Regions from separate parts of the Homo sapiens genome. Here all the other regions are linked to region 1. The links come from fine-mapping of genetic effects on gene expression. A gene starts in region 1. Each other region holds a variant in brackets. All regions are shown on one strand. Distances are from middle to middle.

Region 1 (2,563 bases):
CGTGGGCTCTTTCCGGGAACGTCAGTGCTGAGTCCGGGACACCCTGGGCCCAAGGCCACGCTCGCGGCCTGTCGGCAATCCAGGCTGTCGGCTCAGGACAGAGGGAAGGGTTAAGCCCCCAGCAGGGCCAGGGAGGGGCAAGGTGGCACCGGCTCCCCAGCTGCTCCCAGGCCCTGCTCTGTGGTGCTGGGGACCTGGCTTTAGTTCCTCGGGGTGGAGGGGGCACCGCGCTGCCTGCCTCCGAGCTGTCTGGAGCAGCCAGTCCTGCAGATGTGGGCAGCTCAGGGCCCGTGGGAGGGAGGGGGCTTTGTGCCCAGGGCAGCAGCTGAAGGAGCCCCGGGCCTCGCAGCCCCTCCTGGGTGACCAGGTGCTGCTTCGTGGCAGCTGCCCCCTCCCGTCCAGCGGGTATGGGCCCTGCTCCCCCGTGGTGGGGGCGGCGCAGGAGAGTGGAGCGACCCTCATCGAAGTTACCTCTACCCGGGTCTGAGCCCCCGGACAGACACCCCCGCCCCGACCTGGTTACAGCGCCCTTCCCCGGTTCGGTCTCCGGTGTGCGCATGTGGGGTGCCCCATGGGCGGCCGCGGTGGGAGCTGGGGTGGCCATGCGCGCCCCCGCCCCGCCGTCCACCCGCGACTCCAGGTCTGGATCTACTCGCCCTCCCCACCCTTTCCCGCCCCCAGCCCCGGAGCCGCGCTCTCACCCCAGGGGCGGCAAGGGCGATGGACGCGGAGGAAGCGCCCTCTCCCCCTCGGGGGTCTCCCGGAGGCGAGTCCCGAAGGGGGCGAACTCCGAAGTGGGTCCCGGGTGGGAGGCGCGCGGCCCCGCCCGGCGGGGAGGGGGAAGCGGCGGAGGCGGGTGCTCAGCGGCGCCCCTGGCGGCGGCCGGCGCAGGTGCAGGTCCCGGAGGAGGCTCCGCCCGCAGCCCAGACCCCCGCGGGGTGGGCGGGACGCGGACCCTGAGACCCGCAGCGCCGGACCCGGACGGGAGCCCCTCTCCTCCCCCTCGGGCACGTCCCCGGCCGAGCCTTCCCGCCCTCCTCTGGGGCTCCCACCTCCCCTTCACCCGCGGGGGACCCGATTTCCGCGTCTCCTGGGCCCCTCCCTGGGCAGGGGGTCCAGCCGGAATCCAGGAGTGACCTGCTGGAGGACTTGGTGGCCAGGGAGTCACCCTGGGAGCCCGGTCCTGTGACCCCTTAATGGTTTCTCTGCGCTCCTGGGCGGGCCCCTTGGTCGCATCGGGGCAGGGGAATCGCAATAAGGAAAGTGTAATTCACGCAGAGCCGGCTGCGGGGGAGACGGGAGTTTTATTATTACTCAAATCCTTCTCCCCAAAAACGTGGGGATCCGAGTTTCGAAGGATGATATGGTGGGTAGGCGGCCAGTGAGTCAGGAGCGCTGACCGGTCCGGTTGGAGATGAAGTCTTGGGGAGTCGAAGCTGTCTTCCCAACCCTAACCCAGCTCCTCGGTGGGGGCCACAGGACCACATGAGCAAGATTGTGGATAAACCTGACCACGTTTCAGGTTTTTTTCTATCTACTGGGAGACTGCCTTTCCTTGGCGCTGGTTGCTACCAATTATTATTTTAGAGAAACAGTGCAACAACCACCTGACCATCACCTGAGGGGTCGCCTGACATTCCTGGTTGTGGGTGGGAAGCGCTCTCCTGTCCTGCTCAAGCCGGAGGAGCTACCTGCTGTAACAGTATCAGTGAGAAGAATTATTATAACTGTGAGCTGAGCTAGCCCACCCACAATCTTGCCTTTCCTTTAATTATTCCTGGTTTTTGGGGCCAAGCTGACTTTGAGAGACATTTAGGCTATAGTTTAAATGACAACAGGCCTTGTGTGAAACTCAGCAGCTCATCATGATTGAGGACTAAACTCTGATTTTTTATCTTGCCCAAATTCCTACCTAAGGGGCTTGGGGAGTCATGCCCTACAAACCATAAATTCTCATCAGATGGGTTTTATTTAACCACGTATATCATGACTTACTTTCCAACCTGGCCCTGGCAGAACATTACGATATGAGGAAGAAAATAAAAATATTTTGCCCCAAAACAAGTTTCTTTGCCATATTTTGAAATGGCCCCGGCAAAGCTGTTCTTTGTAGGGGGAAATTTGCAGCTGTAAAGAATCTCTATTAACATAGCTAAATCTTTTTCTTCCAGACCCTCCCAATCCTGAAGAGATTAACAGTCTAGCACCTTTTAGGAATAGGAAACATTCGTCATCTATTGTCTCTAAGGGCAGCCACTATAAGACTTCAAAAGAACTTTGGTCTCCATAATCTTTATTTTAACCTGAACACCCCCTTTCTACCAATCCCAGGTCTTTAGACAAACTCAAGGACTCAATCGTCAACCAGAGGATTAAATTCACCTGTAGCCTGGGGCACTGCGCCGCCCCCCCACCCCCCAGCTTTGTGTTGTCCCGCCTTTCCCGACCAAACCAATGTATTTTTTTTTCAATGTATTTCTTAAATGTATTTCATTGATGCCTCATGTCTTCCTAAAATATATAAAACCAAGCTGGGCCCCGACCACCTTGGGCCCATGTTCTC
Region 2 (2,715 bases), 21 kb before region 1:
TTAATAAAAGCTTTAATCATCTGGCAAGTAATTTTGACTTGTTCCATGTGCCAGAAACAAGATTTGAAGCCTATTGTTCTTGTATTAAACAGTGTGTTTTGTATTACTGTGCTTGGCATGTGGCTAAGATTTTAGAATGAAGCTGTAACACTCTAGTGTCTGAAGAGTGTGAAAAAAAAAAAGAAAGCTATATGATCTGCTTCTGTCTGTATGTTTATGTATGTCTATGTATACATGTACACGTGACATTTTCCTACTCTAGATTGCGTTGCCAAAATTAATTTATAAAAAAGTGGTATTTAATTGGCTTAAAGAAAAATATGAGCTTATATAAGTTGAGTTATCCTTAAACTCTTAGAAATATAGAAACTAACCCAAATGTTTTTTAAATTTCATGTCATCTGAGATTATAGTTGGTAAATAAATGCTATTTAAACTTTTCTGGTTTAATGAAATATTTAGAGTTGTCAGCATTAAATAAAACGCAGACACACAACTTTGGTTTTACCTAGGTTTATTAGGCAAAAACTTATGTTATCTCTGTTACAAGAGTTGCCACCAAGAAAAGCAATTTGATGATGTCTAGCCTTGTCTGCTGTTATGAAACATCTACTTAAAAGCAGCTTGCCGATTCTCTTTGGTAGCTTGCACTGTTAGAGTCAAGTTAAATTAAATGATGGTTATTCATCGACTATCTAGAAAGATATTTTTTAAACCTTATTTTTTTTGAATAACATAAAATACTGAAACTTTGATTGCTAAACATAAGCTTGTCTACTTTTGGCTTCTTATTATAGAAGTACTAAACATACTTGTCTCTGCCAGCAAACACATCCTGTGCCATATTGAAAAATTGTATGATAAAGAAACACACACTTCTAGAAATTATGACATGGTATATTCACAGATTTGCCAATCTGCAGAATGTTGGTATGTATGCAAAAAGTTGACAAGTGTTTACTTGCTAGTTTTCACTAGAAACCAAGGTTAATAGCTGGTGTGGTGGCTCATGCTTGTAATCCCAACACTTTGGGAGGCTGAGGTGGGAGGATCACTTGAGCCAAGAGTTCCAGACCAGCCCATCTCTACCAAAAATAAAAATTAGCTGGGCTGGGTGTGGTAGCTCACGCCTGTAATCATAGCACTTTGGGAGGCTGAGGTGGGTGGATCACGAGGTCAAGAGATTGAGACCATCCTGGCCAACATGGTGAAACCCCATCTCTACTAAAAATACAAAAATTAGCTGAGCATGGTGGTGGACACCTGTAGTCCCAGCTACTCGGGAGGCTGAGGCAGGGGAATCACTTGAACCCGGGAGGCGGAGGTTGCAGTGAGCCAAGATCGCGCCACTGCACTCCAGCCTGGGTGACAGAGTGAGACTCCTCTCAAAAAAAAAAAAAAAAAAAAAAAGCTGGGCATGGTGGCACATGCCTGTGGTCCCAGCAACTTGGGAGACTAAGGTGGGAAGATCACTTGAGCTTGGGAGGTTGAGGCTGCAGTGAGCTGTGATAGCACCACTGCACTCCAGTCTGGGCAACAGAAGAAGGCCCTGACTCAAAAAAAAAAAAAAAAAAAAAAAAGATAAGAAAAGCTTTTAAAGTTAC[T/C]AAGTGTTTAGAATTCTAATTATATGGTAATTAAAATTACGAGAAATAATAAGGGAAGCAGCTCTGTATGCAGAATATACAAACAAAGGAAGGCGAATTTTGGGTAAGGAAAGTTATAAGAGGCTGGTTGTGGTGGCTCAAGCCTGTCATCCCAGCACTTTGGGAGGCTGAGGGGGGCGGATCACCTGAGGTCAGGAGTTCGAGACCAGCCTGGCCAACATGGTGAAAGCCCATCCCTACTACAAATACAAAAATTAGCCGAATGTGGTGGTGCACGCCTGTAATCCCAGCTACTTGGGAGGCTGAGGGGGAAGAATTGCTTGAACCCGGGAGGTGGAAGTTGCAGTGAGCAGAGATTGCAAGACTCAGTCTCAAAAAACAAAAAAAAATTATAAGGTATGAAGGTGTGCTTTTTTTTTTTTTTTTGAGACAGAGTCTTGCTCTGTCGCCCAGGCTGGAGTGCAGTGGCACAATCTCTGCTCACTGCAAGCTCTAAGTCCAATTAAACTCTTTCTTTTGTAAATTGCTCAGTCTTTATTGGCAGCATGAAAATGGACTAATACAGTATTGCAGGAAAAGTCTGATGGAATGGCATGGCTTTCTAGGCTCAAGAGGTTTTCAAAGTCAAATCTGAAATTCTGTATTAAAAGTTCTAGTCGGGAGCAGTGGCTGACGCCTGTAATCCCAGCACTTTGGGAGGCCGAGACGGGCGGATCATCTGAGGTCAGGAGTTTGAGAACAGACTGGCCAACATGGCAAAACCCCGTCTCTACTAAAAATCCAAAAAAATTAGCCGGGCATGGTAGGTCATGCCTGTAGTCCCAGCTACTCGGGAGGCTGAGGCAGGAGAATCACTTGAACCCAGGAGGCAGAGATTGCAGTGAGCCAAGATCGCACCACTGCATTCCAGCCTGGGCGATAGAGCAAGACTCCATCTCGAAAAAGAAATTAAAAAGACTTCTAAGGCTGGGCAACATGGCCAGACTCTTTCTACCAAAAAAAAAAAAAAATATATATATATATATATATATTAGCTAGGTGTGGTGATGCATGTTTGTGGTCCCAGCCACTTGGGAGGCCGAGGTGGGAGGATTGCTTGAACCCAGGTCAA
Region 3 (2,715 bases), 37 kb before region 1:
CCGGCCCTGCTGTGGAGGAAGGGGCTCTAGACGGGGCGGGGCGCTCCTCCGCGTGCTGCGTGTCTGGGGGCCCGAAACGCAGACCCGCCCCCCCACCGTTGGAACGAGCCCCCCCACCGTTGGAACGCGCCGCCCCCCCCTTCCCCCGCTCCAGGCGGCTCCCTGGAGAGCAGCTGGGAAACGCCCCACCCCCATCCATTCCTGGCCGCGCTTTCAGGGCTGTTTTCCTCGGGCTGGGAAACGCCCCGCCCCGTTCCATTCCCGGCCGTCGGTTCGGGAATGTTTTCCTGGCGCACAGCCCTGGGAGGCCTCCCGGGCGCCGAGGGCAGCGCTGGTCACCGTCCCGCGTGGCAGCCAGTGTCTGGGGGCAGAGTGTCCAGGAAGCTGCGCCCCCGGGCTCGTGTCCTGCCGCCACTCACTGCGTGGCACGGGTCCCCGGGCCCCTCCAGGCCTTCTGCGGGAGCTGGGGCTTGGGAAGCCGCCGCAGAAGCGGTTCCCTTGGCCACCTCCCTGCCTGAGAAGTCAACCGTCCTTGCCTCTGACCCAGGGGCTCTGTCTTCTGTTGGCCTCCGGGGATCTGTGGCCGGTTCACCCCCTAGCTGGCGAAGCTAGGCGTTTGAACCAGAGCAATTCCATCTTGATTGGGAGCTGGGTAAAATGAGGCTGAAATCCACTGGGCAGCATTTCCAGACGGTGGGAGCTCAGACCCTGCCCGTTTGTGCACAGGAAGCACCCACCGGGCTCCTGAAGTCCACGCGAGCTCCCTTCCCTGAGCTCCAGGCCAAGCTTGGAGTTCCCTCCGCCCCTTAGACCTCAGGCCGACTCGGCTTCCAGAATGCCATCCTCCCTGGACTGCAGTTAAATTAACTTCCTGTGTTCTGAGCCATCTGTTCCCTTCCTACCCTGTTTTCCACCCCAAATTGTTCTTAACCCCATTATTCAGGGCATGTGATAGTGTGGGCGGAGGATTACCCAGGTGCGGAGGCAAAAGACTGAAGGCACATGGCGGGCGCCTGTAGTCCCAGCTACTC[G/A]GGAAGCTGAGGCAGGAGAATGGGGTGAACCTGGGAGGCGGAGCTTGCAGTGAGCCCGGATGCGCCACTGCACTCCAGCCTGGGCGACAGAGCGAGACTCTGTCTCAAAAAAAAAAAAAAAAAAAAAAAAAAAAAAAAAGACAAGGCACAAACTTTCAGTATAATAAAGAGAATAAGAATAGTTATAATACAAATTAGAGATGATCATGGACATATCAATCATTAGTATAAACATTATTAATCATTAGCTTTTATCGTGGACATTATCAATCAGTATAAACATTATTAGTCATTAGCTTTTAATATTTCTCTTTGTGGCATTACTAATATAACCTAGGAATAACCGGCGGGTATAGGGTCAGGTGCTGAAGGGACGTTGTGAGAAGTGACCTAGAAGGCAAGAGGTGAGCCCTCTGTCACACCAACATAAGGGCCGCTTGAGGGCTCCTTGGTTAAGCGGTAACGCCAGTGCCTGGGAAGGCACCCGTTACTTAGCCGACCGTGAAAGGGAGTCTTCTTTCCTTGGAGGAGTCAGGGAACACTCTGCTCCACCAGCTTCTTGTGGGAGGCTGGATATTCTCCAGGCCTGGCCCGCAGTCATCCGGAGGCCTAACCCCCTCCCTGTGGTGCTTGAATGATCACACTCCTTGTCCACTTTCATGCTCCTCCCTTACTCCTGGTTCCTCTTTGAAGTTCTTAGAAGATAGCGGTAGAAGAAATAAAGTCTTTGATCTTTCTTTCTTTCTTTTTTTTTTTCTTTTTTTTTGAGACAGAGTCTTGCTCTGTCGCCCAGGCTGGAGTGCAGTGGTGCGATCTCGGCTCACTGCAAGCTCCGCCTCCTGGGTTCACACCATTCTCCTGCCTCAGCCTCCCAAATAGCTGGGACTACAGGCGCCTGCCACCATGCGTGGCTAATTTTTTGTATTTTTAGTAGAGACAGGGTTTCACCATGTTGGCCAGGCTGGTCTTGGCCACGTGACCTCAACTGATCTGCCTGCCTCGGCTTCCCAAAGTGCTGGGATTACAGGCGTGAGCCACTGCGCCCGGCCGTCTTTGATCTTTCTTAAAAGTGCATAGAAGAAAACGCTGACGTATGCTGCCTTCCCTCTCTGCTCCCGCTACCTGTAAGGGAAGGGCCCCTGTCCTATGGTCACATGACTTGCTTGACCTTATCAATCACTTGGACAACTCACCGTTCTTACCCTGCCCCCTTGTCTTGTATGCAATCAATATCAGCGTGCCCAGCCATTCGGGGCCACTACCGGTCTCCGCATCTTGGTGGTAGTGGTTCCCCGGGCACAGCTGTTTTCTCTCTATCTCTTTGTCTTGTGTATTTATTTCTTCCGGTCTCTCGTCTCCACACACGGGGAGAACACCCGCCAAGCCCCGTAGGGCTGGACCCTCCATGATAGAAGTCATGCTTTTAATCAAATGCAACCAATTCAGAATGGCAAATTAGGATATATACCCTTTCCCAAATCCAGTATCCCAGGAGAAATTACGGTACGGTAATTAATCCCCCTCCTCCCGCCAAGCTAAACCTCAGAGAAGTTGAAGTTCTAAAGTTCAAGTCCAAAAATACTGGGAAGGGAAAAACAAACAAAAAAACCGAGGAAACAAACATCAGGGAAAAACCCAGAACCTCGTCATGAAAATAGTGTCCTGTCGCTCTGTTTCTGATTTG
Region 4 (2,715 bases), 740 kb before region 1:
AGCTGCGGGCCAGGGCGGGGGGTGGGAGGGGAGATAGTCCACCAGGAGGCTCAGCCACCCACCCCGCAGCCTCGCCCTGACTGCGTTTATGGCCAGATCCTGTTGTGGGCGCAAGTCCAGCTCCACTGCCCTCCCTCCTGCTGGCATCTTCCAGGAACTGGCAGGGGCAGCAGGAACCTAGGGACCCAAGAGCCAGGAGACGGCCAGGATCAGCATTTGCTTCTCATTACCGGAGATGGAGGAAATGGGCAGCTTCTCCTGCTGTCCAGATTGTAGGACTGGGGCGGCATCATCAAGAGTGGAATGTGACGTCGTCCAGCTCCCCAGACTCGGCCCTCCCGGAGTCCAGGGCTGCCAGGCTGCCCTCTGGCCCGGGGGAAGTGCCTGGGGAGGATGAAGGAAGCCAGAGGGTGCTGGGGCCCGGTGCCCATGCATCTGTCCATCGCGTTCTGCAGGGAGCAGCCTCCCAGGGACCCCACTGCCTCCCGGATCCCCGGGGGAGGGGCAGATAGGGGCCAGGAGGATGTTTGCCAGGTGGCATCCGGTAGGAAGGTTAGGGTGAGGCTAGCGGTTAGGGATTAGGGCTTGGGGTGTAGGGTTGGGTCTAGGGTTAAGGTGTTGGGACTAAGGGGTTTGGGTGGAGGCTTGGGGTGAATTTAGGGCAGGGGTAGGCTGGGGTGAGGGTAATTTGGGGTGGTATGTTAGGGTCAGGACCCTGGGACCACGCTGGGTCTGACGCATTCAAGGGCACTTTGTCAGCCATCAAACGGGGCAAGACGCTCCACCTGGGTGACACAGAGCCGCACAGCCCTGCACCTGTACCTACACCTGGGGCCCCTCCTGTGCCCACAGGGCCTCCCCTGGTCAGCTGGGAGGGCTCTGCTAGCTGCCTCCTATCCCTAAGTGGACACAGTCCCTGGATCCTTCCCCCAGGGCTGGCCACACCCAGCTGACCACTCCCCCAACTCCCCTCTGGGCCCAGGCAGTCACCAAGGGGGTCAGCCGTCCTCAGTCCTCTCAGCCACGCAGGCCTGGGCCTCGGGTAGGGCTGCAGGACACACCTCCCCTACAGCTGGGCAGGTCCATGGTGTCCAGGCAGCCTGCCCTGGCCCGGCCCCAGGTGGTGCCTGGCATGCAGAGGAC[C/T]GGAAGGCGGCAAGACCCCCGCTGCCAACGCCCCTCTCCGGCCCAGATAAGGTTCTGGGGAAGTCATTTCTTCCAGGCCCAGCTTCGGGAGGGTTGCAGTGTCCACACACATCTCCCCCTGCAGCTCAACCAGGCGCCACGGGAGGCACCCAAACAGCTGTGGGAACTGCAGGAAGGAGGGGAGGAGAGGGCGGGGAGTGGAGGAGGGAGGAGCTGCCCAGGCGTCCCCCGCGTAGGGGTGCAGGCTCCTGGGGATGCTGGGGACTCCAGGTCCTCACTGGCCCTTCCCGGCTGGCCCGCCTTTGCTCTGCATACAGCTGGCGCTCAGCAAAGCTTGCCGCTGCTGATGGACAATTCCATAGCTCACTCCAGCATATCTGTGCCCCAGGAGACGGTGCCCTCCTGGCCCCGGCCTGTGCCCTCTGTGGCCATTGAGGGCCCCGCCAGGCCTGCGGTCACAGGCGGGGCCAGTGCAGGGAGGAGGCCCTGACCACAGCAAAGGGGTCCGCAGCAGGGGAGGCACCAGCGTCCAAGTGCCCGTGCCCAGGGAGGTGCCACCTCTGACACGGACAGGGCTTCAGGCTTGGGACACAGGTGCCGGGGAAGCAGAAGGGAAAGGGAGGGGGCGGAACCCCGGCAGCAGGTCGGCTTGGTGACTGCACACCCCACGGGGGCAGTGGCTTACAGGGACCCACAGCCCAGGAGGGCCTCACCTTCGGCCCCTCCCAGCAGTAGCACCAACTGCCGTGGCCGCCCACACTACCCTCGTCCCGACGGCCACCCACACCAGGCCCTCCGTGGCCAGCACTCCTGTCATCCACATCCCCATCTTGCTGATAAGCGGGCGGTGAGGACACAGGAAACCCAGGCTGTCACCCGCCCAAGTCCGGAGCCAGGATGGGTCCCCCAGGTGGGAGAAGCCTGGTCTCACCCCCAGAGTGGCCCAGCCTGTCCCACAGCCAGGATCTAATGCCAGTCTCCCAAGGAGTGGGCACAGGGGGGTGTCTGGCCCCCCCTTATGGGGAGGGAACTCTCCATGGGGGGCCAGGAGCTGGGGAGCCTCAGGGGTCACAAGAAGCTGGTGGAGCCAGGGAGCCATGGCCACAGCGTGGGGGCAGGTGCCCCAGGAGGGGGAGGGGAGGGCATGGCCTTGGTTGCTACCAGCCCCCGCACTGGCATTCGGGCAGCATGGGGGCACATTTTGGGCCTGGGGGACTGTGCCATCGTGGCCAGGAGCACCTTGAGAAGCCAGGAGGGCTGGCCAGGGTGGGGCAGAGCAGAGCAGGGCAGGGACAATCTGCCCAGACGTCTCACCACCCCTCAGACACCCCCAGACTTGCCTGGGCCAGGATAAATACGCAGTCCTTGCCCCAAGGCCCAGAATTAGGTACGTGGGTACCTGCATGTCTGGCCGGGTCCCCTGCCTCTCTGTGCAGAATCCTGATGCCCCCTGGCAGGCCTAGGGGTTCAGCAGAAGCAGGTTGCAGCCCCCACACCCCTCTAATGGGCCACATAGAAGGTGGGCCAAGGGCAGTGGATGGGGGGCCTGGGACACAGCAGCTGGGACACTGC

What was found. PIP is the estimated chance that this variant, and not a neighbour inherited with it, causes the effect.
Region 2: its variant is fine-mapped to the expression of IFITM3-AS1 in whole blood (TOPMed, PIP above 0.99).
Region 3: its variant is fine-mapped to the expression of IFITM3-AS1 in whole blood (INTERVAL, PIP above 0.99).
Region 4: its variant is fine-mapped to the expression of IFITM3-AS1 in spleen (GTEx, PIP 0.98).

What each region holds. Positions count from the first base shown.
Region 1 is chr11:316,885-319,447 of GRCh38, reverse strand. It overlaps IFITM3-AS1 (IFITM3 antisense RNA 1), which reads right to left and starts at 988. Exons shown (of 5, transcript XR_007062540.1): 1 at 702-988. RefSeq lists enhancers at 1-461, 462-1,017, 1,428-1,787, 2,132-2,563.
Region 2 is chr11:337,915-340,629 of GRCh38, reverse strand. No RefSeq gene overlaps it. Among named protein-coding and RNA genes, the nearest start is that of IFITM3, 18 kb to the right of the region's middle. The variant T/C (reference allele first, on the strand shown) is at 1,605.
Region 3 is chr11:353,581-356,295 of GRCh38, reverse strand. No RefSeq gene overlaps it. Among named protein-coding and RNA genes, the nearest start is that of B4GALNT4, 15 kb to the left of the region's middle. RefSeq lists silencers at 1-171, 2,640-2,715 and enhancers at 1-419, 1,606-1,895, 1,401-1,977. The variant G/A (reference allele first, on the strand shown) is at 1,032.
Region 4 is chr11:1,051,908-1,054,622 of GRCh38, reverse strand. LOC124902605 reads right to left here. Exons shown (of 4, transcript XM_047427955.1): 4 at 1-384. LINC02688 (long intergenic non-protein coding RNA 2688) reads right to left here. Exons shown (of 4, transcript NR_160890.1): 3 at 231-384. Among named protein-coding and RNA genes, the nearest start is that of LINC02688, 3.4 kb to the right of the region's middle. The variant C/T (reference allele first, on the strand shown) is at 1,144.